Linked DNA regions of Homo sapiens: all the other regions are linked to region 2. Evidence: fine-mapped QTL for protein levels in blood plasma. A gene starts in region 2. Each other region holds a variant in brackets. All regions are shown on one strand. Distances are between the middles of the regions.

Region 1 (5,106 bases), 280 kb before region 2:
GATACAGCTGTCAAATTCCAAAGGCATCCAGTACCCATGCTCTCCACAGAGCAGTCCCTTATTATACAAGCTCTGCACCAGCTGAGAACCATGTTCCAGTCTCATATTGCTCAGAATCTCCTCTGAGCTTCACATAACTCAGGCACAATCTCCCTGAATCATATGGCATAGGAAAGTCATGAGCAGTAAGACTTGGTTCAAGAAAAAATACCAAGTTCTGACCACTCAAAGTACCCTTAGGTGCTCTCATTCATGTGAGCTTTCCGTTTCCTGCTCTCCAGCCCCATTTCTTATTTGGGTTAGGGATCCCCTAGGGCTGCTCAGTGGTAGGGGGCCACTGAATTCAAAGCAGGCCACTGTACTCGAAGTAGATGGCTAGGAAAAAAAAAAGGGCCAGTCACAGTGGTTCATGCCTATAATCCCAGCACTTTGGGAGGCTGAGGCAGGCAGATCACTTGAGGTCAGGAGTTTGAGACCAGCCTGGCCAACATGGGGAAACCCTGTCTGTACTAAAAATATAAAAATTAACTGGGCATGGTGGTGCATGCCTGTAGTTCCAGCTACGCGGAGGCTGAGGCATGAGAATCACTTGAACCCAAGAGGCAGGGGGTGCAGTGAGCTGAGATCACCTCTGCACTCCAGCCTGAGTGACAGAGTGAGACTCCGTCAAAAAATAAAATAAAATCCTTCCTTCCTTCCTCCTTCCCTTCCTCCTTCCCTTCCTCCTTCCCTTCCCCCTCCTCTTCCCCTTTCCCTTCCCCCTTCCCTTCCATTCCCTTCCTTTCCTTTCATTCCCTCCCTCCCTCCCTTCTTCCCTCCTTCCTTCCTATTTCTGAGCACTTCTTTCCCAGGCACAAGGTAAACGAGCTTTCAAATATAGCACACTGAATACCCATGATAATTCTATAAAATGGATCCTATTCTTCCCATTTTAAAGATGAAGACCCCAAGGCTCAGAGCAGTGAGGTGCAGATTTACTGTGATGCTAAGGAAGAAAGTTTCAGGGCCCTGCCAGCATGGACCCCTTTCAAGGCCCTAGCAATATATTCTTAGAATCATGTAATTTTTAAATGAAATTTGCAGTAGTAAGATATTTTAACTGCAATTGATGAAGAGCACTGTATCTTTCAACTCTGATGTCTCCTCCTGATACATTTCCCCTCATGTTCATATTGAATGGTGTTACAGTAGCTATAGGTGTTTTGGGATCCAGCATAAGGGAAAGTTAATTTGGGGATAAATTTAGTTTGGGTGTAGTGGGATTTATGTCTATTGTTCACAGTCACGTTAATGCAAAGTCAAGTGATTGTTAGCTGTCCCCATGGCTTCCAGTGCTAAGCTTTCCACAACTCAATGGCTTTGAGACTCAAAGGTGCAATACCTGGCACCTGAGACATAAAAATAGGGGAGAAAAAATAGGATTGAAATATACAGAGCGGTCCGGGTGCGGTGGCTCACACCTGTCATCCCAGCATTTTGTGACACCGAGGCAGGCGGATCCTCTGAGGTCGGGAGTTCAAGACCAGCCTGACCAACATGGAGAAACCCTGTCTCTACTAAAAATACAACATTAGTTGGGTGTGGTGGCACATGCCTGTAATCCTAGCTACTCGAGAGGCTGAAGCAGGAGAATTGCTTGAACCTGGGAGGCGGAGGTTGTGGTGAGCTGAGATCGCGCCATTGCACTCCAGCCTGGGCAACAAGAGTGAAACTCCATTTCAAAAAAAAAAAAAAAAAAAAAAAAAAGAAGGAAAAGAAAAGAAAAAAGAACTATACAGAGCCAGAAGCTAGAGCATAGAACTTTCTTCCAGTCTTTGGACATGTGGAATTGAAGGAAAATTTAGTTTTCACTGATGCCTATTCGAAAAAGAAAGTTTTCTCCTATCAGAAATGTATTTGATAATATAATGAATACAGTTATAAATATACCAGACATTTTCCCCCTTTTTGGTGGGAATTACACAAAATATATTTTATCAAAATTCCTGTATTGTAGGACCCAAACCTATGGCAGTAAAACAAAAAAAAGTGGATGTCTGTGTCTGAAGCCATGTTTTATGCAATGTAACTATCAATAATAAAAAATAAATATTGTCAGTCATGCTAGAAGAAAAGCTAAATTTTCTTTGCAACCTCCCTTTAGAAAAATTACAAAATCACTATCATATGAAGAGGTGATCAAAGTGTATTCAGCCAAAATATATTCAGGGAAAAAAGTATTATGGAGGTTTCACAGGCAAATAATAAAAATATTTTGTTATTTTTCTGGATTTTATAAAGTTTGTGATACATGTCAGGTTTTAAAAACGTATATTGAATGTGATTTATTTTCTTATTCTAAATAAATATTCACCATGGTACCTAATTTTGTATTTGTAATTTTATATTCTTTTTCTTAAAGAGGTCCCCCAGTTGCTTAAACTTCAAGCCCTACAAAATCTCAACCCATCCCTGGAGGTGAAATAACTTTCCCAGCCAGGAAGTGGCAGACCCAGGACTAGAGAACTTGGTCCCTGACTTTGGGATCCCCTGAACTTCACACATTTGTGCCCAGTCATCCATAGGGCAGCCTGGGCTACAAGGGTCAGGGTGCTAGTGGAGAAGGTCAAAGGATGATGAATTTGTAAACTGGATACCATCACTGCAGCCAGCACATGTGGCTTCTACCTCACCTGAGCAGACAGCAAGAGGTTTTCTGAAGACCTGAGTATGCAACTGACAAATCCCGACTCTGTTAAAACCAAGTGCCCAGATTAAAGATAAATAGCCCCAAATCCCCAAACAATATAATTGAATCTGGTTTGATTCTTCTGGGTGTCACATTCCCTAAACTTGCACTGTCCAAAATGGTGGTCCTGGCCACATGCGGCTATTTAAATTAATAAAAATGAAATGAAATAAAAAATCCAGTCCTTCAGTTGCAGTAACCACGTTTTAAATACTTAATAGCCACATGTGGCCAGTGGTTTCTGAGTCAGACAGTGGAGATATAGAATGCTCCCATCACACCCCCACCCCAGGCTCTACTGTT[A/T]AGCCCAGCTGAACTTTTTTTTTTTTTTTTTTTTGAGACTGAGTCTCTGTCGCCCAGGCTGGAGTGCAGTGGCGTGATCTCAGCTCACTGCAAGCTCCGCCTCCTGGGTTCACGCCATTCTCCTGCCTCAGCCTCTCAAGTAGCTGGGACTACAGGCACCCACCACCACGCCCGGCTAATTTTTTTTTTTTTTTTTTTTTTTGTATTTTTAGTAGAGATGGGGTTTCAACATGTTAGCCAGGATGGTCTCAATCTCCTGACTTCGTAATCTGCCCACCTTGGCCTCCCAAAGTGCTCGGATTACAGGCATGAGCCACCACGCCCGGCCTAGCCCAGCTGATTTTAAACAGTCTTTACTAAGACATATCTAAGCCCTTCTTCTCAAGAAGAGTGTTTGCAGGTGAGTGTGGCCGATATGTGAGGAGAGAGGAGAAGGAGGAGAAAGGAAGGCCTATCCAGAGAGAAGAGAGGGACAGCCCAGCTGAGAAGGGGCCAAAGAGGGGGAAAAAGGAAATAGAACCTAAAGTGACTGAGGTGTTAGGCCTTGTAGAGAATAAGGGCATCATCAGATGTGAGCCAAGGAAATGATTCAGATCACACCTGACAGAATAAGGAGGATAAATTAGCTCCAGAATCAGTTATCACATACCTCATGTACCCCCCAACATACACACCATATACCTCACACCCCCCACACACATACCACACACACACATGCCCCCCACACCACATACCTCACACATGCGCACCCCCACATACCTCATACACATACCAAACACACACACACCACATACCTCACACATATACCACACACACATGCCCCCATACCACATACCTCACACACACACCACATACCTCACACACATACCCCACACACGTACACCATATACCTCACACACCACATGCCACATACACACACAAAGACCACACATGCCACACACACACACAAAGACCACACATGCCACACACACACCACATACCACATACACACACCACATACCTCACACGCTACACACACACACACACACCACACAACACATACACCACACACACCACACATACGCCACATACCTCACACACCAAACACACACAAGCACCACACACACACCCCCCACATACCTCACACATCACACACACCTCCATATACCTCACAAACACACATATCTCACACACACACACACCACATACACCACACACCCCACACCTCACACAGTCCCACCCCACATCCCCTGCTACACACAAACTCACACACTTTAAAGTGTGCTTTGCATTCCAAGTCTTTGCTGGGAAACCTTAGTTGCAGCTTTACGTGGCTGGAATATCAAAAGGCAGGAGTTGTGGAGTCACTGACAATAACATCATCCACCTTCTCAATGTCCCCGACACTGCCACCTCATTACCCAAAAGCCACTGCCATTCCAGACCTACGCAGAGTCTGAAGGGCAGCACCCCCTTCTCCTTGGGACTGGAGGGACACCTTGCCTCAACTCTCCTGCAGGGCCTGAGGTTAAACTCTCCTGTATTCCACCATCAAAGGACAGCATGGGGGACTCTAGCCCTTTTAATGGGCTGCCAAGAGCAAAAATTCACGCATTCTAGAGTATGAAAGCCCGGCAGGGTGGGCCTTCATTTCCCATATGTTAGTGTGTATCGATGGAGAGGGTAGGGAGCCCTGTGGGGAATGAGGGCACCCATTGTCCCCTGCAGAGCAGTTGTGGATGGAGCTCCTGTAGGAATAACGGACTCTGATTACCACGGTGACACTCCCAAGGTGATGGCTCTGGATAGGGTTTGCAGTCTCCTTTATACTCATCACTCCCATCTAATCCTCACAAGAACCCTGCTCCCCACTTAATGAACAAAGAAGCAGGCCTAGAAAGGCAAGTGGCTTGCCCGGAATTAACAATAATAGTTTAACCATAATAACATTGCCCCATCTGCTCACCATCCAATGAACAACTCAAGTGACAGCACAGTGGTTAAGAGAACAGATTCTGAAACAGATGTACCTGGTTCAAATCCTGGCTCGGCCAATGACTAGCTTTGTGCCACTGGGCATGTGATTCAATTACCCT
Region 2 (5,106 bases):
AGGCAGGAAATATTAGTGTCCCAGTTTTATAGAGGAAGAGGTGGAGGCACAGAGAGGGAAGGTGACTTTCCAAAGATCACACAGTACTTGGAAAAGCTGTGGCTGGGCCCCTGCCCTGTTTTATATCCTCATGCAATTATCCATGTGGGTCTGGAGGTCAGAGAGACTTCCCCAGGCACAGAAGCCATTACACAACAGGGTGGCCACAGCTGTGCAAGGGTTGTGGGTGATCACAGTGCCCAGAAAGCACCAAGGTCAAGGTCACAATGGGAGCACTGAGACTCTTCCTGGGGGGTTGAGCAAGTTGTCTTGAGGAGAGGCCGTGGAATGAAAGCCTTGGACCCTGAGTAGGAGTTTGCCTGGACAGTAGTGTGGGAAGACGGGCAGTGGAGAGGTGAGCAGCAGCAGAGGAAATGGCAAGAGGTGTGGTTTGGGATGTGGTCAGGGCTGGAGGCCACACTAGCATGGCTGGTGGGAGCCAAGTCCTTGAATACCCAAGAGTTTGGTGCCAGTCTTCTAGTGGGCCAAGTGCCTGTATTGGTTGTCCAAACCAGCTCAGACTGGCTCCCGTGCTCACATGTGGCTCAGTGAACTTGGTGACCTCAGGAGATGTGAAATAAAAGCAAACCCTCCCCACCACCCGCTGCCTTGGTGGTTTGGAGATCCAGATCCTCTCCACGCCTCTGTGTTGTGGCAGCCCCAGGGACAGTGAGCAGCTTAGCAGGGAGAGTGGGGTCCTTCGCTTAGTACATTACATCCCGAGCTTCCAGGGCAGGATAGACTAGGGGATGAAGGAAGGAAGGAAGGCAACACCCAGAGTACTCTGGAATCTGGTTTATTAGCTGGGGGTTGAAGTGGCAGGGAAGGACAGTGTTGGGGCGAGGCCTCCAGTCACCCAGTTCCTCCCCGGGCTGCTCCTCCCGACTGGACCAGGGTAGGTTGAGCTGCTGGGAGTGGAGTATCATGGGTGGCCCTTTCTGCAGGAGAAAAGAGCTTCCCTGCTGCGGAGGGGAGGCAGGCAGTGGGCAAGCCCCCCTAGCATCCGGTACAGGCAGCGTAGGCACAGATTTCACATGTGCCCGGGTCCTCAGCGATTTCCTCTGCACAACAGAGATGGAGCCTCGTGAGAACCAGCATTTCCTCGCGAGGCCCCTGCCGCCCTTGGCCCAGAGCTTGTACGTCACCACCCAGCCCCAGGAGAATCTCAGCAGGCCCGTACTCTGACCTACTGGGCTTTTCGCCCCAAACCAGGGCACACAGACCACTCAAACCAACCAATCAAAGCAGAGATTCCACCAGAAAGAGAGGAAACTAAGACCAGATGAATGGTCTTAGTTCCCAAACCTCAGCAGTTACAACTTGGAATTGAAGTGGGCATGGAACAGACCCACCAATCAGAGCCAAGCTCCCTAGTTCCACCAGTCAGAGCTGAGCCCTTCCTCCAAATCCCACCAATCAGAGCACATCTCTTCCTCAAGTGCCACCACAGTATTCCCGAACCCCACCAATCAGAGAGGAAGGAGGCTGCTCACCCAGCCTCTGAAGTATCTCCTGGGCATTGGGCTCCTTGCAGAGAGGCTTGAGTTCTTCTGGAAAGTTCGGGTTGCTACAGAGGATGGGAACCACAGGTTCACCAGGGATGGGTGCAAAGTTCCTGAGTTTCCCAACCCTGGGCTCCTGGGGCTCCTGGAGGTCTTTGAGCTTCTTCACTGACTCCAGAGAAAAGGAGAAATTTCCATCCTGGAAGAGAGAAGCCCAGAGCATGAGGCCAGGCTGCAGCCTGCTTCCTGGCTGTGCCCCCCGTGCTGGCCCCGGTCCAGCCCAGTGGTGCTCACAGGCAGTGTTCGTGGCATATGGGAGCCAGGCGATCCACAGTGGGGCACTGTGAGGGGCAGAGTTCAGGCCCCACGTCCTGGCTTGGCTCCGTGATGCTGGACACTCTGGAACCCGCAAATTCTGCATGTTGTATGGGGAATGGAGAAAATGGGTGTGAAGCTCCAGGAACACCATAGGTGCCTAATGAGTAGGAGCCAGTGTGCTGATTTTTAGGGAGAGGCAAAGGACCAGCACCCAGGCATCGTAGTTCCACGTGGCCAAGCCCAGGCTGTCTTTCCCCTGCCTGAGAGCGGTGCGGCTGATTACTGGGCCCCCAGCTCCAGCCTGCAGCCTGGTTTTGGTTTGAGAAGCAATAAAAGGCCTCCCGGAATCTGGCTTTGATAGAGATCAGGGCCCCCGCTAGGTGCCAGCTTGGCCTGTCGCCAGCATTGGCACTGGTAGGCATACCCATCTGTCAGGACCTCCAGGGTGTCCATGTGGTTCCTGGGACCCACTGAGGAGTAAGGTCTGGATTTAAATCCAGCTCCTGCACTTCCCACAGCCATGTGCCCATGGCCTGTTACAGAACCTTTGTGAGGCTCAGTTTTCCCCTCTGTAAAATGGGACTAATGATCCCTTTCTTCCAGGTTGATAGTGGAGCCACAGTGAGGGGCTGGGGAAGGAGCCGGCACATAGGACACTCAGTAAATTGGCCAACTCCCCGCCTTCCCCATATGGTTATTCCTCTTCCCTCCACTGGGTTTCTTTCTCCTCCAAAGTTGAAGGGAAAGGTGTGTGTGTGGCTGGACTGAGCAGGAGCTCCTCGAAGAAGGCCAAGCCTGGGACACACACCCTCAATCCAGCCCCAAAGAGGAGGTACTCTCTCAGGGGACCAGACCTGGGCACTAGGGGCAGGGAGCCAGCTGGGCCGGGGTAGGGACACAGGACTCACCTGCACGGTGACCCCTCCTGCCAAGGCGGCCCAGGCCCCAAGGAGGCACAGTGCGGAGAGCAGGAAGGCATTCATGGCAGCAGTGCCCGAGAGAGGGGTGGCTGTTCTGGATGCCAGGGGGAAGCGGCGGGACTTTTAAAGAGGGCAGGTTACTGAGTAACCTGGAAGCCTCTGTCAGTCTCATCTGCTCACCTGTCAGGCCTTATCAGATAAGGCTCGAGACAGCCCTAGGAGATAAGAGCCAGGCAGGGGGGGCCCCGGCCCCTCCCTGAGCACCTACTTTGACCCACAGCCGGGCTGGGTCCTGCATTCATTCACCAACAAGGCACATTCACTCACGACTGCCCTGTGCTGCTGTGTGGGGCCGGCAGACCCTGCCCTTGAGGAGGGGGGCCCAGCCCGACAGTGAAACGCAGGGCGATTAGGGTGGGGTGATCCTAGGATGAGGTGACGGGGCTGCACTGGGGGCTGAGCTCTGGAGAATGGGTGGAAGTTTTCCCAGAGAAGGGACTGAGGACAGAAGGCCATTTCATGCCAAAGGGACAGCCAGGAGGTGAGACGGGCCTGGAATATTCAGGGAAATGTGAGAAATTCCACGGGGGAGGCTGCAGGGCAAGTCAGGGTCTGGGTTTGATTGCCGCGACCTCAAGGAAGCCCTCCGCACAGCCTGGGTTCCGTTCCACCTACTGCCCAGTTGTGAGGCGTGTGAACTTGGGCCAATGCTTTCCCCTCTCTGAGTCTCGTTGTCCCTTGTGTCCCCTGTGGGAACCAAAAATAATACCTACCTCATGGGGTAGGTGTGTGGTAGGCATTACTGTTTGGAGAATCAAGTGAGGTTTTAAAAACATTTAGCTCAATGCCTGGCACACAGAAGGTGCTCAGCAGAGGTCCATTCCCATATTATTAGCAGCCACAGCAGCTCCTGGTCCTCCCTGGCCCCTCTGGTGACCTCCTGCCTGTCTGAGTCACAGGCTGTCCCCATCCTGTGCTGGTCCCCATCCTGTCCTGCCTGCCCTGCAGCCTCAGGGTGTCCTCGAATGAGCTCCTCCCCAATCCGCCCGCCCCCCTTGCCCCTGCAGATACAGTCCCCTTTCCGCGGATCTCACTGGGGAATTGCTTGGGTGTGCCCGCGCCCCTATAGACTCTGACCCCATTCAGACTGCGCCCTCAGGGCAGCGTGCATTCACTGTGTGCTGTTGTGAGCAGGAATCCCCAGGACACAGGAGAAAGGGTAGCCCTGGGATTGTCATCTTTCTACTCAGCCAACCTGGCCCGATGCCAGGACAGCCCTAGGGCGGGAGGTTGGGCAGGAATTCCTGGGTGGGGAGAGTCAACACTGAAGAGGGAATTGGAGAGAGCAGGGCCTGACCAGGAGGGAACTGCAGGGACAAGGCCCTCAGGGAGGGGCAGGTAGCTCCTGGCCCAGCTCCCAGGGCAGTCCTCACAGCTGCACTGGATTTCCCACCCCTTTCTGGTGAGTGTGTGTGTGTGTGTGTGTGTGTGTGTGTTAAGGGGGGGTGTGTCTGCGGAGATGTGTATGTCTGTGTATGCCAAGGTGTCTGTATATACCCTGATGGGTGTGTGTAGCCAAGGTGTGTTTGTATGTGTGCTTGTGCTGAAGGTGTGTGTGTGCTGAGGCATGTGTGTACACTGAGGAGTGTATGTGTATATATGCTGAGGTGTATGTGTGTGTATGCTGAGGGGTATATGTGTGTCCGTGTACACCAAGGTATCTGTGTCTGTGCAAGGAGGTGTGCATATATACATCGAGGTGTGTGTGTGTCAGTGTGTATATACACAGGCGCGTGTGTGTACACCGAGGTGTGTGTGTTTGCTGGGATGTGTGTCTGCTGGGGTGTCTGCTGGGGTGTGTGTATGTGCACTGAGGTATGTGTGTGTGTATGCTCATGTGTGTATATGCACTGAGATATGTGTGTGTATGTGCACTGAGGTGTGTGTGTGTATGCTGAGCTGAGTGCATCTGCTGTGTTGTGCGTGTGTGTGCCGAGGTGTGTGTATACACTGAGGTGCATGTATGCGCTGAGGTGTGTGTGTGCTGACGTGTGTGAGTGCTGACGTGTGTGTATACACTGAGGTGCGTATGTGTGCTGAGGTGCGTATGTGTGCTGAGGTGTGTGTGTGCTGACGTGTGTGTATACACTGAGGTGTGTGTGTGTGCTGAGGTGTGTGTGTGTGCTGAGCTGTGTGTGTGCTGATGTGTGTGTATACACTGAGGTGTGTGTGAGTGCTGATGTGTGTGTATACACTGAGGAGCGTGTGTGTGCTGAGGTATGTGTGCGCTGATGTGTGTGTATACACTGAGGTGCGTGTGTGTGCTG
Region 3 (5,106 bases), 220 kb before region 2:
TAGGAATCTATCCCAAAGACACACTAGCAATATGTAAAATGATACATGCACAAAGCTATTTGTCAAAACACAATTTGTAATAGTAAATAAATGAAAACAACCCCCAAATGTTCATGAATTAGGGACTAGTTGCATTCATAAAACTGAGAATTATATGAATAATTCTCAGACACAGAAAGGAGTGAGGAAAATCTCTATATATTGCTATGAAGGAATGTAAGTGAAAATACAAAATTCAGAAGAATGAACATAATATGCTACTTTTTAATATAAACAGGAAGATATATACATATTTGTTTATATTTTCTTTTTTTTTTCTTTTTTTGAGACGGAGTTTCGCTCTGTCGCCCAGGCTGGAGTGCAGTGGCATGAACTTGGCTCACTGCAAGCTCGGCCTCCCGGGTTCACACCATTCTCCTGCCTCAGCCTCCCAAGTAGCTGGGACTACAGGCGCCCGCCATCACGCCCAGCTAATTTTTTATTTTTTTTATTTTTTAGTAGAGACGGGTTTCACCATGTTAGCCAGGATGGTCTTGATCTCCTGACCTCGTGATCCACCTGCCTCGGCCTCCCAAAGTGCTGGGATTACAGGCATGAGCCACCACGCCCAGCCACATATTTGCTTATATTCTCAAAAAGAAGAAATGGAAAGATAAACCAAAAATTAATAAAATGGGTTACCTATAGGAGAAAGGAAAGAACAATGGGAAGAGGATTTAGGTGGAAGCTGGATCTCTTTGAATGTATCATATTTTATAGTTTTAAGTTCAAAATCATGTAAATGTTTTGCATAATTTTAAAAAATTAAATAGAAAAGAAACAAAGTAATCTATAAAAATCAAAACAATCTGAAATACTCAGTGGCTTCCCACTACCTACCTTGACTCCAAATTCCTGAGCCTGAATTCAATGATCTCTTTAGTCTGCCCAGCCAAATATTCCCACTTCACTTTCTGAGGCCCCCTTCTCCATCTTCTCTACACACAGACAAACTATTAACATTATCTGTGTGCCTAATTTATTTTGCCAGCTAGACCATACTTCTTTGAGAATGGAATCTAGTTCTGATTTATTTTTGAAACCTAAAATTCTCAGTGTCTAGAGTTATTACCAGAACATAAATTAGTACGGTTATGGCATCTGAAAGTTATTGGCAGGAAATTTTATGTTTATTCTGAAGAATTCAAGGAAGCCATAGCTTTTTGATAATATGTAAAATATCTGGCTAAAGAGTAACTTTCTAGTTACAAAACAGAAAAAATAATTGAAGCAATCTGATATCCATCAGCAGATGAATGGATAAATAAAATGTGGTATATCCATACAATGGAATATTATTCAGCCTTAAAAAGGAAGGAAATTCTGACACATGCTACTACACAGATGAACCTTAAAGACAGTGTGCTGAGTTAAATAAGTCAGTCACAAAATAACAAATACTGAATGATTCCACTTATATGAGGTACTTAGAGTAATAAAATTCATAGAGACAGAAAGTGGAATGATGGTTGCCAGGGACTGGGCAGGAGGTGAGAGGAAGTAGGAGTTATTGTTTGATAAGTCCAGTTTTAATTTTGTAAGATATAAAATGTTCTGGAGAAGGATAGTACCAGGTTGCACAATATGAAGGTGTTAAATGCCGCTGAACTGTATGCTTAACAATGGTTAAAATGGTAAATTTTGTTATGTGTATTTTGTCACAATTAAAAACAATTTTAACAAGGAAAACAAGACATTTGGGAATATCTTTTAATATTGGCTCCTTTTATTAATGTAACAAAGTTTTAACCAAGGCTATCCTCTCCAGAGCCATTAAGGATCACCTAGGGAAGAGACGGCTTTTTGCTTAGAACATGGTACCATGTTACCTACACTCTCTCTGAAACGAATTTGCATAAGAACTGTTGTTTATGGGAATGCATCTTGACGGGGCAGCTGGGTTGCTATGAAATACTCAGGAACCCAGCCCAGCTCTAGGACTCACCCCTGAGCACAAACGCAATGTTGGACACACTGGTAAAGGACCACTGGAATCCAGCAGCCCGGATCCCTTTCTTTGTGGTCAAGAAAGGCAGGAAAAGGGATGCAGGACTGCTACATCAGTGAGCATCACTAATCCGATAAGCAGAGGTCCATGGGTGGTGATGCACCCTGGAAAGGAAAAAGCATTAGGACCATAGAGGACGCTCTAGGACTAATGCTCATCGGAAAATGACTAGGGGTGCTGGCATCCCTGTGTTCTTTTTTCAGATGGGAAACATTCCCCCCAAGGCAAAAACACCCTGAAGATA[T/C]ATTCTGGAGAACTGGGGCCAATTTGACCCTCAGACGCTAAGAAAGAAACGATTTATATTCCTCTGCAGTACTGCCTGGCCACAATATCCTCTTCAAGGGGGAGAAACCTGACCTCCTGAGAGAAGTATAAATTATAACCCCATCTTACAGCTAGACCTCTTTTGTAGAAAAGAAGGTAAATGGAGTGAAGTGCTATATGTACAAACTTTCTTTTCATTAAGAGACAACTCACAATTATGTAAAAAGTGTGATTTATGCCCTACAGGAAGCCTTCAGAGTCTACCTCCCTACCTCAGCATCCCCCTGACTCCTTCCCCAACTAATAAGGACCCCGCCTTCAACCCAAACGGTACAAAAGGAGATAGACAAAGGGGTAAACAATGAACCAAAGAGTGCCAATAGTCTCCAATTATGCCCCCTCCAAGCTGTGGGAGGAGGAGAATTTGGCCCAGCAGAGTGCATGTACCTTTTTCTCTCTCAGACTTAAAGCAAATTAAAATAGACCTAGGTAAATTCTCAGATAACCCTGATGGCTATATTGATGTTTTACAAGGGTTAGGACAATCCTTTGATCTGACATGGAGAGATATAATGTTACTGCTAAATCAGACACTAACCTCAAATGAGAGAAGTGCCGCCATAACTGCAGGCCGAGAGTTTGGTGATCTCTGGTATCTCAGTCAGGTCAATGATAGGATGACAACAGAGGAAAGAGAACGATTCCCCTCAGGCCAGCGGGCAGTTCCCAGTGTAGACCCTCACTGGGACACAGAATCAGAACATGGAGATTGGTGCCGCAGACATTTGCTAACTTGCATGCTAGAAGGACTAAAGAAAACTAGGAAGAAGCCCATGAATTATTCAATGATGTCCACTATAATACATGGAAAGGAAGAAAATCCTACCGCCTTTCTGGAGAGACTAAGGGAGGCATTGAGGAAGCATAGCTCTCTGTCACCTGACTCTACTGAAGGCCAACTAATCTTAAAGGATAAGTTTATCACTCAGTCAGCTGCAGACATTAGAAAAAAACTTCAAAAGTCTGCCTTAGGCCCAGAGCAAAACTTAGAAACCCTACTGAACTTGGCAACCTCAGATTTTTACAATAGAGGTCAGGAGAAGCAGGCGGAACGGGACAAACGGGATTAAAAAAAGGCCACCGCTTTAGTCATGGCCCTCAGGCAAGTGGACTTTGGAGGCTCTGGAAACGGGAAAAGCTGGGCAAATTGAATGCCTAATAGGGCTTGCTTCCAGTGCAGTCTACAAGGACGCTTTAGAAAAGATTGTCCAAGTAGAAATAAGCCGCCCCTCGTCCATGCCCCTTATGTCAAGGGAATCACTGGAAGGCCTACTGCCCCAGGGGACGAAGGTCCTCTGAGTCAGAAGCCACTAACCTGATGATCCAGCAGCAGGACTGAGGGTGCCCGGGGCAAGTGCCAGCCCATGCCATCACCCTCAGAGCCCCGGGTATGTTTGACCATTGAGAGCCAGGAAGTTAACTGTCTCCTGGACACTGGCGCAGCCTTCTCAGTCTTACTTTCCTGTCCCAGACAATTGTCCTCCAGATCTGTCACTATCCGAGGGGGTCCTAGGACAGCCAGTCACTACATACTTCTCTCAGCCACTAAGTTGTGACTGGGGAACTTTACTCTTTTCACATGCTTTTCTAATTATGCCTGAAAGCCCCACTCGCTTGTTAGGGAGAGACATTCTAGCAAAAGCAGGGGCCATTATACACCTGAACATAGGAAAAGGAACACCCATTTGCTGTCCCCTGCTTGAGGAAGGAATTAATCCTGAAGTCTGGGCAATAGAAGGACAATATGGACAAGCAAAGAATGCCCGTCCTGTTCAAGTTAAACTAAAGGATTCTGCCTCCTTTCCCTACCAAAGGAAGTACCCTCTTAGACCCGAGGCCCTACAAGGACTCAAAAGATTGTTAAGGACCTAAAAGCCCAAGGCCTAGTAAAACCATGCAGTAGCCCCTGCAATACTCCAATTTTAGGAGTACAGAAACCCAACGGACAGTGGAGGCTAGTACAAGATCTCAGGATTATCAATGAGGCCGTTGTTCCTCTATACCCAGCTGTACCTAACCCTTATACTGTGCTTTCCCAAATACCAGAGGAAACAGAGTGGTTTACAGTCCTGGACTTTAAAGATGCCTTTTTCTGCATCCCTGTACTTCTTGTTTGCCTTTGAAGATCCTTCAAACCCAACATCTCAACTCACCTGGATTGTTTTACCCCAAGGGTTCAGGGATAGACCCCATCTATTTGGCCAGGAATTAGCCCAAGACTTGAGCCAGTTCTCATACCTGGACACTCTTGTCCTTCGGTATGTGGATGATTTACTTTTAGCCACCCGTTCAGAAACCTTGTGCCATCAAGCCACCCAAGCGCTCTTTAATTTCCTCGCCACCTGTGGCTACAAGGTTTCCAAACCAAAGGCTCAGCTCTGCTCACAACAGGTTAAATACTTCGGGCTAAAATTATCCAAAGACACCAGGGCCCTCAGTGAGGACTGTATCCAGCCCATACTGGCTTATCCTCATCCCAAAACCCTAAAGCAACTAAGAGCATTCCTTGGCATAACAGGCTTCTGCCGAATATGGATTCCCAGGTATGGCAAAATAGCCAGGCCATTACATACACTAATTAAGGAAACTCAGAAAGCCAATACCCATTTAGTAAGATGAACACTTGAAGCAGAAGTGGCTTTCTAGGTCCTAAAGAAGGCCCTAACCCAAGCCCCAGTGTTAAGCTTGCTAATGGGGCAAGACTTTTCTTTATATGTCACAGGAAAAACAGAAAT
Region 4 (5,106 bases), 930 kb before region 2:
GGTAGTTGCCAGGAACTGGAGGGAGGGAGGAATGTATGCCATGGGTGCAACTAGCTGGGGCCTATGTCACAAGTGGTAAAGAAATTTACCAAGACAGTTATAGGTAAAGAAAGGCAGATTTGGCTGGGCGCAGTGGCTCACGTCTGTAATCCTAGCACTTTGGGAAGCCGAGGCGGGCAGATCATGAGGTCAGGTCAAGACCAGTCTGGCCAACATAGTGAAACCCCGTCTCTACTAAAAATACAAAAAATTCGCCAGGCATGGTGGTGTGCACCTGTAATCCCAGCTACTTGGGAGGCTGAGGGAGGAGAATCATGTGAACCCTGGAGGTGGAGGTTGCAGTGAGCTGGTGAGCTGAGATTGCACCATTGCACTCCTGCCTGGTCGACAGTGCAAGACTCTGTCTCAAAAACAAAACAAAAACAAAACAAAAGGAGGCAGATTTATTAGAGAAAGTATGAAAATATGTTGCAAAGGTGCAATAGGCAGCACAGCAGAGAAAGGGCTGTCTACAAAGAGGCAAGGACTGGAGGGAAGTTTTACAGGGTCATGCTGGAGGGGGCTATGAGGACAAGGTAGTTGTGCCAGTGGTTGTTTGTAATTAGCCGTCTCTCAGAACAATTGTTCATTGTTCTCCCCTACCTGTGGCTCCTTCCTCTTTGCTGCTTACTTATTGGGACTCCACAATGGGATGTATAATTATTGTTTAATGGATAGAGTTTCAGTTTAACAAAATGAAACAAGTTCTGGAGATGGATGGTGATGAGGGTTGCGCAGCAATGTGACTATACTTAGTACTGTTAAAAATAGTTGAAATGGCAAATTTTATGTTACATATATTTTACCACAATTAAAAAATAATTAAAGAAAACATTCTATAAGCTACATTAAGACCAGCAGGAAGCATATAAACAATGTAAGGAGCCAAGCACAGTGGCTCACGCCTGTAATCCCAGCAGTTTGGGAGGCTGAGGTGGGAGCATCACTTAAGCCTAGGAGTTCAAGACCAGCCCTGGCAACATGGTGAGACCCCATTTCTACAAAATAAAAAAAAAAATTAGCTGGGTGTGATGGTGCGCACCTGTGGTTCCAGGTACTTAGGAGGCTGCAGTGAGCCGTGATCACATCACTGCACTCAACCTGGGTGACAGAGCAAGATCCTGACTTGGGGAAAAAAAAAAAGAAAGGAATGTAGAGAGAATAGTATAATTATCAGACTTAAAATTTTAAATATTTAACCCTGAAAGCAACGTGGAAGATGATTAAAGGGGACCCAGAGCAGTTGTAGGCAAAGTGTTCAGATGCAACTGCAGTAATTCAGAAGAGAGATGACAGAAGCTTGGACCAGGTTGGTGGCAGTTAAGATTCATTCATTCGGAGGCCAAGGTGGGTGGATCACCTGAGGTCAGGAGTTCGAAACCAGCCTGACCAACACGGTGAAACCGTATCTCTACTAAAAAGACAAAAACTAGCCAGGCATGATGGCACATGCCTGTAATCCCAGCTACTTGGGAGGCTGAGGCAGGAGAATCGCTTAAACCCAGGGGGTGGAGGTTGCAGTGAGCCAAGATTGTGCCATTGCACTCCAGCCTAGGCAACAAGAGCAAAACTCCAACCCCCTACCAAAAAAAAAAAAGATTCATTAATTCATTTAACTTTTTAATGAATGCATTATATGCCATGCACTGTGATAGGAGTCACATATAAGAATAAGATTGGCAATGCGGCACTATTCACAATAGCAAAGACTTGGAACCAACCCAAATGTCCATCAATGATAGACTAGATTAAGAAAATGTGGCACATATACACCATGGAATACTATGTAGCCATGAAAAAGGATGAGTTCATGCCCTTTGTAGGGACATGGATGAAGCTGGAAACCATCATTCTGAGCAAACTATCACAAGGACAGAAAACCAAACACTGCATGTTCTCACTCACAGGTGGGAAGTGAACAATGAGAACACTTGGACACAGGGAGGGGAACAGCACACACCAGGGCCTGTCGGAGGGTAGAGGGCTGGGGGAGGGA[T/G]AGCATTAGGAGAAATACCTAATGTAAATGACAAGTTAATAGGTGCAGCAAACCAACATGGCACATGTATACCTATGTAACAAACCTGCACATTGTGCACATGTACCCTAGAAATTAAAGTATAATTAAAAAAAAAATAAGATTGGCAAGACCCCTGCCCTCATGTCCTCATGGAACTTAACAAGTAAGCAAATAAATAATTACATGTTGTGATTAAGTGCTATAACAGAATTAACAGAGTGACTGTGGAAGGGCAGTCAGTATGGCCTCTATGAGGAGGTAATGTTTAAGAATGAATCAAGAGTCAGGGGAAGACTCTCCCAGGCAGATGAAACAGTATGTGCCAAGTCTGAGAGACAGGAAAGAGCTTCACATCTTCAAGAAATGAAATGGGAGCCAATGTAACTAGAACTTAGCTAGGGGATGGTGGCACTATGTGAGGCTAAGAAGGTAGTCTCCATATCATGTAGACCACAAGGGAAAATATCATTTGTATATCCAATGCAATGGAAAGCCACTGAAGGATTTTAGGCAGAGATATGATCTGATCTGTGGTGACCGCATTGGTGGAGGATAGGGTACAAAAGTAGACACACGAAAGCCATATAGGGGGTTGATATAATGGTCCAAAAGAAGAACTATGGTGGCTTAGACTAGAATGAAGGAAGTGGTGAGGGAGGGGTAGAAAGATTCTTTAGATATTTAGGATGTAGTCCTAAGGGGTATCAGCAATGAACTAAAAATGGAGAAAAGATAATTTAACAAATGATTCCCAGCCAGGCACCATCCCAGCACTTCAGGAGGCTGAGGCGGGAGGATCACTGGAGCCCAGGAGTTCAAGACTAGCTTGGGCAAGATGGCAAGACTTTATCCCTATAAAATAAAAATTTAAAAATTAGCTGGGTTCCATAGCACACGCCTGAGGTCTTACCTACTCAGAAGGCTGAGGGAAGAGGATCCCCTGAGCCCAGGAATTCAAGGCAGCAGTGAGCTATGATCGCATCACTGCACTCCAGCCTGAGCAACAAAGCAAGACCCTATGTCTTAAAAAAAAAAAAAAAATTAAAGAAATGATTCTCAGATTTTAGGCCTGAACAAATAGATGAATTAGGGGGCTGTTCACTGAAACTGGCAACAATGAGTAAGTATCAGACTTACTTAGAGAGCTTTTAGAAAATATTAATTCCTATGTTCTATCCCCTTAGAGATCCCAATTCAATATAATTTTTTTGGCACATGGTACTTTTAATTTTAAAAATTTCTCCAGGCGATTCTGATATTCAACAAGGTTTGGGACTTGCTGCTACAAACGAAGTTAACCAGAGTAGATTATTATTGCTTGCAAATTAAAGAACCCCATATGATTAGAAATTGGTTTGTGGGAGTGGCACAAATGATAGTCCCTAAAACACAGAATTGACTGGATCAAAGTTGAGAACAGAACAGTAGAATTCTATATACCATGTTAAGAGGTTGGCCGTCTTTATAATATGCTATGAGACAGCTGATCAAACTGTGGTCTATTTTGTACTGGGATTCACTATTACTAGGACTTGGCATGTTTTTGACACTATATACATAAGAAACTGAGGCAGAAAAAGTTCATATGACATCCACCTAGTATACATTCTGGCACATGCATCTATCAACAAACTGCAGTTTGTCAGTCATTATCAAATGAGTCAACTAAATTAGGCACATCATTTTATGAAGAAATATGTTTTAATTAAATCTCAAAGAAATAACATCTAAAATTAGAATAATTTTATTATAACTTTTTAAAAATAAACTTTTTCTATTAGAACAGTTTTAGATTTACAGAAAAACTGCAGATAGCTCCCATATACCCTGTACTATTTCCCCTACTACTAACATTTTACATTAGTATGGCATATTTGTTACAATTCATGAACCAATATTGATACCTTATTAACTAAAGTCCACACTTTATTCAGACTTCCCTAATTTTTACCTGAGATTACTTTTCTATGACAGGACCCCATCCAGTATACCATGCTACATTATATTTAGTCATTATGTCTTCTTAGCCTCTTCTTGGCTGACACTTTCTCAAACGTTCCTTGTTTGATGACTTTAACAGTTTTGTGGAGTATTAGAAATTTTATAGGCCAGGTGTGGTGGCTCACGCCTGTAATCCCAGCACTTTGGGAGGCAGAGGCGGGCAGATCACGAGGTCAGGAGTTCGAGAACAGCCCGGCCAACATAGCGAAACTCGGTCTCTATTAAAAATACAAAAAATTAGCCGGGTGTGGTGGTAGGCACCTGTAATCCTAGCTACTCAGGAGGCTGAGGCAGGAGAATCGCTTGAACCCAGGGAGGTGGAGGTTACAGCGAGCCAAGATCTCACACACCGCACACCAGCCAGGGTGACAGTGCAAGACTGTCTCAAAAAAAAAAAAAAAAGAAATTTTATAAAATGTACCTCAGTTGGGATTATCTGATGTTTTCTCATGATTAGACTCAGGTTATGGCTTTTGGGGAGGAAGAGATCTTAGGTAAAGTTATTATATCTGTCACCTAAATAGTAAAACCCACTGAGGGAAGAAACCCTATCTTATTCTCACCTTTTTATCCTTAGTATGTAGCTGGTAAAGGTTGAAAAACTGCAAACCAAAGGTTGAAGGGGTACAGAAATGTTATAATTTATTAAAATATGAGCACTGATCCTAACGAGGAATCTAGTCATATATCTGCTCAAATTAAAAAATAAATATGACTTTGATTTGCTAAACCATTTCATTCTTCTAACCAGGGATCTTTTGTTTGCCGACATTGTTTGGTGAGATAGAAGATATATTCAGACTAAAAATATATGTGTCAATTCCTGCAAGTAAACTTTGCCTCCTGTACTGATAAAGTCTCAGAATTACATAACACTGCTGTGGGGCACATATATGGTGAAATGAAAAGAGGACTGGGGTTGAAGTCAGGCTGGTCTGGGCTTGAAACCAAGTCCTATTACTTATAAACTGCATAATCTTGGCCAGCTATCTCTGAGTCTCAGTTTCTTTATGTATAAAATAGAGGTGATACTACCTATATGCAGGTGG
Region 5 (5,106 bases), 370 kb before region 2:
AAGGCATGAGTTCAACGTTTGTGAGCTACCATTGTCATGAAAACCAATTTTAGCATTTTATTTGCAGCTGTGAGTTTATTTTACACTTGATCTTAGCCAGAATGCTAAGAAGTGATGGTTATGAGTTTATTTTAATATGACCTACAGAAAATTTAAAATGACCTACGGAAAATTACAATCAAGCTCATAATTTGGCAGACCTTATTGTTTAGGTCAAAGCTAAGTAAACAAATCAATGTAAACATATTTAAAGAACATAAATAAATACTAGTGTAGGTGATAGGCTAGTGTGTCATGAATTGCCAAGATGGGGCACACAGACTATTTGGGAGCTATTGATCTAGTCTGAGCCCTCTAGTTCTATAAGGAGGAAACTCTAAACAGGAAGTAGTGAGCTGAGACCTTGGTCAACAATGTAGTCACCGGCTGGGTTGGGACCAGACAGTTGCCCCATGCCCTGTCCTCCCTGTCCTGTCATTCTGCCCCCTCAACAGACTCATCAAGGTCACATTTAAATAAGTACACACAAAAGCAGCTTATGCATAGACAGCTTGTCATCAGACAGGATCACACGTAACACCCAGGTCAAATCCTCTGCCATGTCAAACAAGATAATCCCATGGAGTAAAAGCAACTCCTTTACAAAACAGGGTCAGGTGCTACTTTCTGACTCCAGGGTCAGAGAGGCTGGTGGAACTGGCTTCTCTGGCTCTGCCACTTCTTAACTGCGTGCTATGATTTGGATGTTCATTCCCCCAAATCTCATGCTGAAATTGGATCCCAGTGGTGGAGGTAAGGCCTAGTGGGAGGTGTTTGGATCATGGGGTGGATCCCTCATGAATGGCTTGGTAACCTATCCCTCAAGAGCTGGTTGTCAAAAGGAGCTTGGCACCTCCCCTCTCTCTCTTGCTCCCTCTCACACCATGGGATCTCTGAACATGCCAGCTCCTCTTTGCCCTCTACCATGAGTGGAAGCAGCCTGAAGCCCTCACCAGTAGCCAGTGCTAGTACCATGTTTCTTGTATAGCCTGCAGAACCATGAGCCAAATAAACCGCTTTTCTGTATAAATTACCCAGCCTCGCATATTACTTTATAGCAATACAAACAGATTAACACACCATGTAACCTTGGAAATGTTGCTTAATCTCTCTGTGCTTCTGTTTTCAGATGTACAAACTGAGATAAGAGGTGGTAAATCTAGTGCACAGAATGTGAGGATTAAATGTGAGTTTCCTTTCTTCTTCCTCTAAGAGCAAGAGCAAGTACCTCCCGCCAAAGATATGGGAGAATCCTTACGTAGGAAGCTCTTTATCTATCTGTGAGTTCACCCATCACTCTCTGACTACAAAACCTTCAGCCACTCCCTGTTTCTTACCACTGCAAATCTGCAGGCCTCAACAATGTGGCCCCTTCCCATCAAGCCAACTTTATCTCCTTGGTCCCTAACACTTGTCCTAGCATATCCCATGCTCCCTCATGGCCCCATGGACAAGATGCATCCATACTGACTCCCAACCCCTGTACCATTTTCTTCCCCACATTGGTGTATAGACTGATCTTGCAAAAACCCACATCTAATTAACCTTCCTCCTGAAAGCCTCTGCACAATTCACCCTTTCCTGTGGAATAAAGTCCAAACTCCCTACCACTGCAGTCACAGTCTCTCATCATCTAACCCCATTCCCTCTCCTGTAGTCATCCTTAGTTATCCATAATTCTCTCCCCACAGCACAGGCACACATGTGTACACACACACACACACACACACACACACACACACACACACACACGAGTCTACACTCAAGCCAGTCAGGTCCGCTCACTGTTCCTTCAATAGCTTGGGCTCCTTTGCACCTGCATATTTGTGCACTAGCTGCTTTTTATCCCTGGAACACTGCATTCCTTTCTTTGCTGGGTAAATGCCTTCTAACCCCTTAGCACTTTGCTGAAACA[G/C]AGCATTTTGTTTTGCAAACTCCCACCTCCACTCATCCCTTGCAGCTTAGGTGACTAAGTCCTGGCCAATAAGATGTAAGTGAAAATCACTGGGTGGAACTACCAAGAAGGCTCATTGAAAGGAGCACAGATGGCTGCATGGCCTTTCCACCTTTTTCTAGTTTTTTTATATATAATGGATGTGATGGCTGGTGCTCCAGCAGCCATCTTAGACACAAGGTCACCTTCAGAATGAAAATCATGCTCTATGGATGGAGAGGCCAAAGAGAGAAGTTGCCTGGGAATGCTGATATTGTGGTGCTACCATATACCAAGGCTAGACTGGCTCCCTTTGGTTCTTTTATGAGAGAGGAAGATAAACTCTTATGTGTTTAAGCCACTGTTATTTTAGTTTGTTGTTATATGCAGAAAATCGAATCCTAGCCAATATAACAGACATACAAGTCATTTCCTGATTTGGCTCCTACACACCTCTCTAGCCACACATTTCCCCTCCCCACCCCCAAACCCCATACTCCACACCTACTAATCTAATTTCAGTTTCCTCAATGCATCATGCTTTTCTCAGGCATCACACCCTTCCCCCTCTCCTCCATATCCCTCCTCAGACCACCTGGGAACACCTGCTCAGCCTTCCAGACCCAGCTCAAGGAACACCTCCTCCGTGAAGCCTTTCCAGATGCACTCTCTATACTTCTCCCAGGCAGAAGTGACCATTCCTCCCACTCCGTATGCCCCCAAATATCTACCATGAACCCTCTAACATGTCATCATTTAGTCATCCACCTGTACCTCCGAGGTCCTGAGTTGCTTGAGGCAAGAGCTATTTCAATCATCTTTGTCTCCAGCATGTAGCCCAGGACCTGGGAACACTGAGCACAAGTAAAGTTGTTCAGGGAAAGTTCCCCTGAGGCAAGGTTTCATCTGGGATTCTGGCCCAAGGGGCAGGGCTATGTCCTTGGGAGAGGATGGGGGCTCCTGCAGGGCAAAAGGGCTTGCTCTTGAGCATATTCTGCCCTAGGAGGCACCAGGAAATGTCTGTTGGGTGGGTAAATGAATGTGCAACTCAACCTCCCTTCAAGCTTCTCTCTCTAGGATGCTGACTTCCTCCAGCCGTGGTGGTGCTGCCTGTCACCATCTGACCCTCTCTGCTTCCCTTCCCCTGCCATACTTAGCAGGCACTCACAGCTGGAGGCAGGAGGCTCTCAAAGTGAAGGGAAAAACTCTTAGCTGCCACCATCCTGAAACCTGCCCTCCCCACAGCCACAAAAGGCCAAGGAGCATGGAAACAGCTGCTGCAAGGAGACCAGTGAGCAGGAAGGTGGGGCAGCCTCACAGGAGCTGCCCTGACTGGGGCCTTCCCTCTAGCAGTGACCTTGACTTAGAGAAAGGACACCTTCCATGGCCACTCAAACATACACATGACAGTTTCCCTCCACCTTCATTGCATACACTGAAGACAACTGGACAGAAAATAAAGAAAGTAAGGAGAACTTCCAGAACCATAGCCAGAAATGCAGAGTAACTTAAAGTAGCTCTGTTTTAATATATTGCTTGCTTCCCCCAAGGCCCTGCAGGGATGGAAGCTGTATCCTTCAAGGGCAATGGGATGAATAGTGGGGAGAGGAGAATGTTCAGGGGATCCTGGATTCTGCTCTTTCCAATGTGAATGGCCACCATATGGAAGAACGATTGGGCCACTCTCCCAGAAAGCTAATGATCAGTGTAGCATCAGCCCACACAGGAGTGGCCTGTCATGGGAGGCTCATACACTGTGTGCCATGAAGCAGTGGACATACTCAGAATCACATGCCACCACAAAGACTTCGGGTTCTGGGAACTTGGGACCTCCTGCCTTCTGGGGCTTCTTGGAACATCCATGCAGTCTGGCCCCAAGAATGCCAATTGCTCCTGATACCTGAGCCAACTTTCTGGGCTCCCCCTGTCTCATCAGGGATGCTCTCTATCTGCAGAGCACTACAAGTGGCTCAAGCCTGGTTCTCTGACTGCTTCAAAGGTCCTTCTCTTAATCTGGTTTACCTCACTCTTCTGCCTGCTTCTTGGAGCTCAGCTTCCTATGACTGGTGCCACAAAAGTTCCTAGGGTCACACACAGAGGGGCAGAGAAGCTGATCCACTGGAGAGGCTATTAGAACAGGTGGGAGGAGGCTGCACTGTGAACCAGGGTCTGGGGCCATGCCTTTCCCACCACATCATAAGCATTAATTCATTAATTCATTCACAAAATATATATTTAATGTCTACTACATGCTAGGCATAATTCTGGGAATAAAGCAATAGAAAAAAAACATGTGATGAAATATATTCAGGGAAATATATTTTGGTTTACCAAAGTAGAAAGATTTCTGTCCTGCAGGAAGGACTCAGAATTTTTACTATGTCAGCCACAGGTACTGTGACTTGCCCAGAAGGGTCTTAGCATATAGGCCCTTTGAGGAAGAAACATCAGTGTAGAAAATTTGAAAAACGTAGAAATGCACAAAGAAGAAAATAAAAATTACTGGTAATCCAACCACTCAGAAAATACTCTTATAAACATTTTTTGTGTTTGTCACTGAAATATTTTTATATACACATCTATAACTGCATAGATGTACCCACCATAACTTACAAAACCAATTCCCACATTCTTGTGTATTTAGATTGTCTCCAGTCTCTTAATATTGCAAACAATACAGTGAAGAGCATCCTTGTAAGTAATCCTGTATTAGTCAGTTCTCATGCTGCTAATAAAGACATACCCGAGACTGGGTAATTTATAAAGGAAAGAGTTTTAATGGACTTAGTTCCACATGGCTGGGGATGCCTCACAATCATGGTGGAAGACGTAGGAAGAGCAATGGGACGGCTTACATGGTAGCAGGCAAGAGAGTTTGTGCAGGGGAACTCCCATCTATAAAACCACCAGATTTCGAGAGACTTATTCACTATCACAATGACAGTAGGGGGGAAAATGCCCCCATGATTCAATTATCTCCACCTGGCCCCACCCTTGACACGTGGGAATTATTAAAATTCAAGGTGAGTTTGAGTGGGAACACAGAGCCAAACCATAGTAGATCCTTATCCATATCAGTGATTATTTTACTAGTATAAATCCTTGAAAGGGGAACTTATAGGTAAAAATGTAGA

Which allele goes with the higher level. Positions count from the first base shown, and alleles are read on the strand shown. Strength reflects both the effect of a copy and how common the allele is.
For the plasma level of the protein whose gene starts at base 2,875 in region 2, A is the low allele of the variant in region 1 and T is the other (weak association).
In carriers of allele C in region 3, the plasma level of the protein whose gene starts at base 2,875 in region 2 tends to be lower than with T alone (moderate association).
With allele G in place of T in region 4, the plasma level of the protein whose gene starts at base 2,875 in region 2 is lower (moderate association).
With allele G in place of C in region 5, the plasma level of the protein whose gene starts at base 2,875 in region 2 is higher (weak association).

What was found. PIP is the chance, under the fine-mapping model, that this variant and not a neighbour inherited with it causes the effect. Protein levels are from antibody-based Olink assays in UK Biobank. Linkage for the fine-mapping came from a reference panel and not from the study's own genotypes, which makes the PIPs less certain.
Region 1: its variant is fine-mapped to the plasma level of the GUCA2A protein (UK Biobank, PIP above 0.99).
Region 3: its variant is fine-mapped to the plasma level of the GUCA2A protein (UK Biobank, PIP above 0.99).
Region 4: its variant is fine-mapped to the plasma level of the GUCA2A protein (UK Biobank, PIP above 0.99).
Region 5: its variant is fine-mapped to the plasma level of the GUCA2A protein (UK Biobank, PIP above 0.99).

Annotation. Positions count from the first base shown.
Region 1 is chr1:41,884,993-41,890,098 of GRCh38, forward strand. All of the region lies in intron 1 of HIVEP3 (HIVEP zinc finger 3), which reads right to left. Among named protein-coding and RNA genes, the nearest start is that of HIVEP3, 31 kb to the right of the region's middle. RefSeq lists a silencer at 3,122-3,331. The variant A/T (reference allele first, on the strand shown) is at 3,032.
Region 2 is chr1:42,161,871-42,166,976 of GRCh38, forward strand. It overlaps GUCA2A (guanylate cyclase activator 2A), which reads right to left and starts at 2,875. Exons shown (of 3, transcript NM_033553.3): 1 at 2,768-2,875; 2 at 1,533-1,740; 3 at 820-1,100. The coding sequence starts at 2,842. The coding sequence ends at 1,036. RefSeq lists an enhancer at 2,735-3,699.
Region 3 is chr1:41,942,593-41,947,698 of GRCh38, forward strand. It overlaps a transcript of HIVEP3 not described here. Among named protein-coding and RNA genes, the nearest start is that of HIVEP3, 26 kb to the left of the region's middle. The variant T/C (reference allele first, on the strand shown) is at 2,292.
Region 4 is chr1:41,227,579-41,232,684 of GRCh38, forward strand. The region is part of intron 1 of SCMH1 (Scm polycomb group protein homolog 1); the gene reads right to left. Among named protein-coding and RNA genes, the nearest start is that of SCMH1, 12 kb to the right of the region's middle. The variant T/G (reference allele first, on the strand shown) is at 2,036.
Region 5 is chr1:41,789,375-41,794,480 of GRCh38, forward strand. The region is part of intron 1 of HIVEP3 (HIVEP zinc finger 3); the gene reads right to left. Among named protein-coding and RNA genes, the nearest start is that of HIVEP3, 130 kb to the right of the region's middle. The variant G/C (reference allele first, on the strand shown) is at 1,955.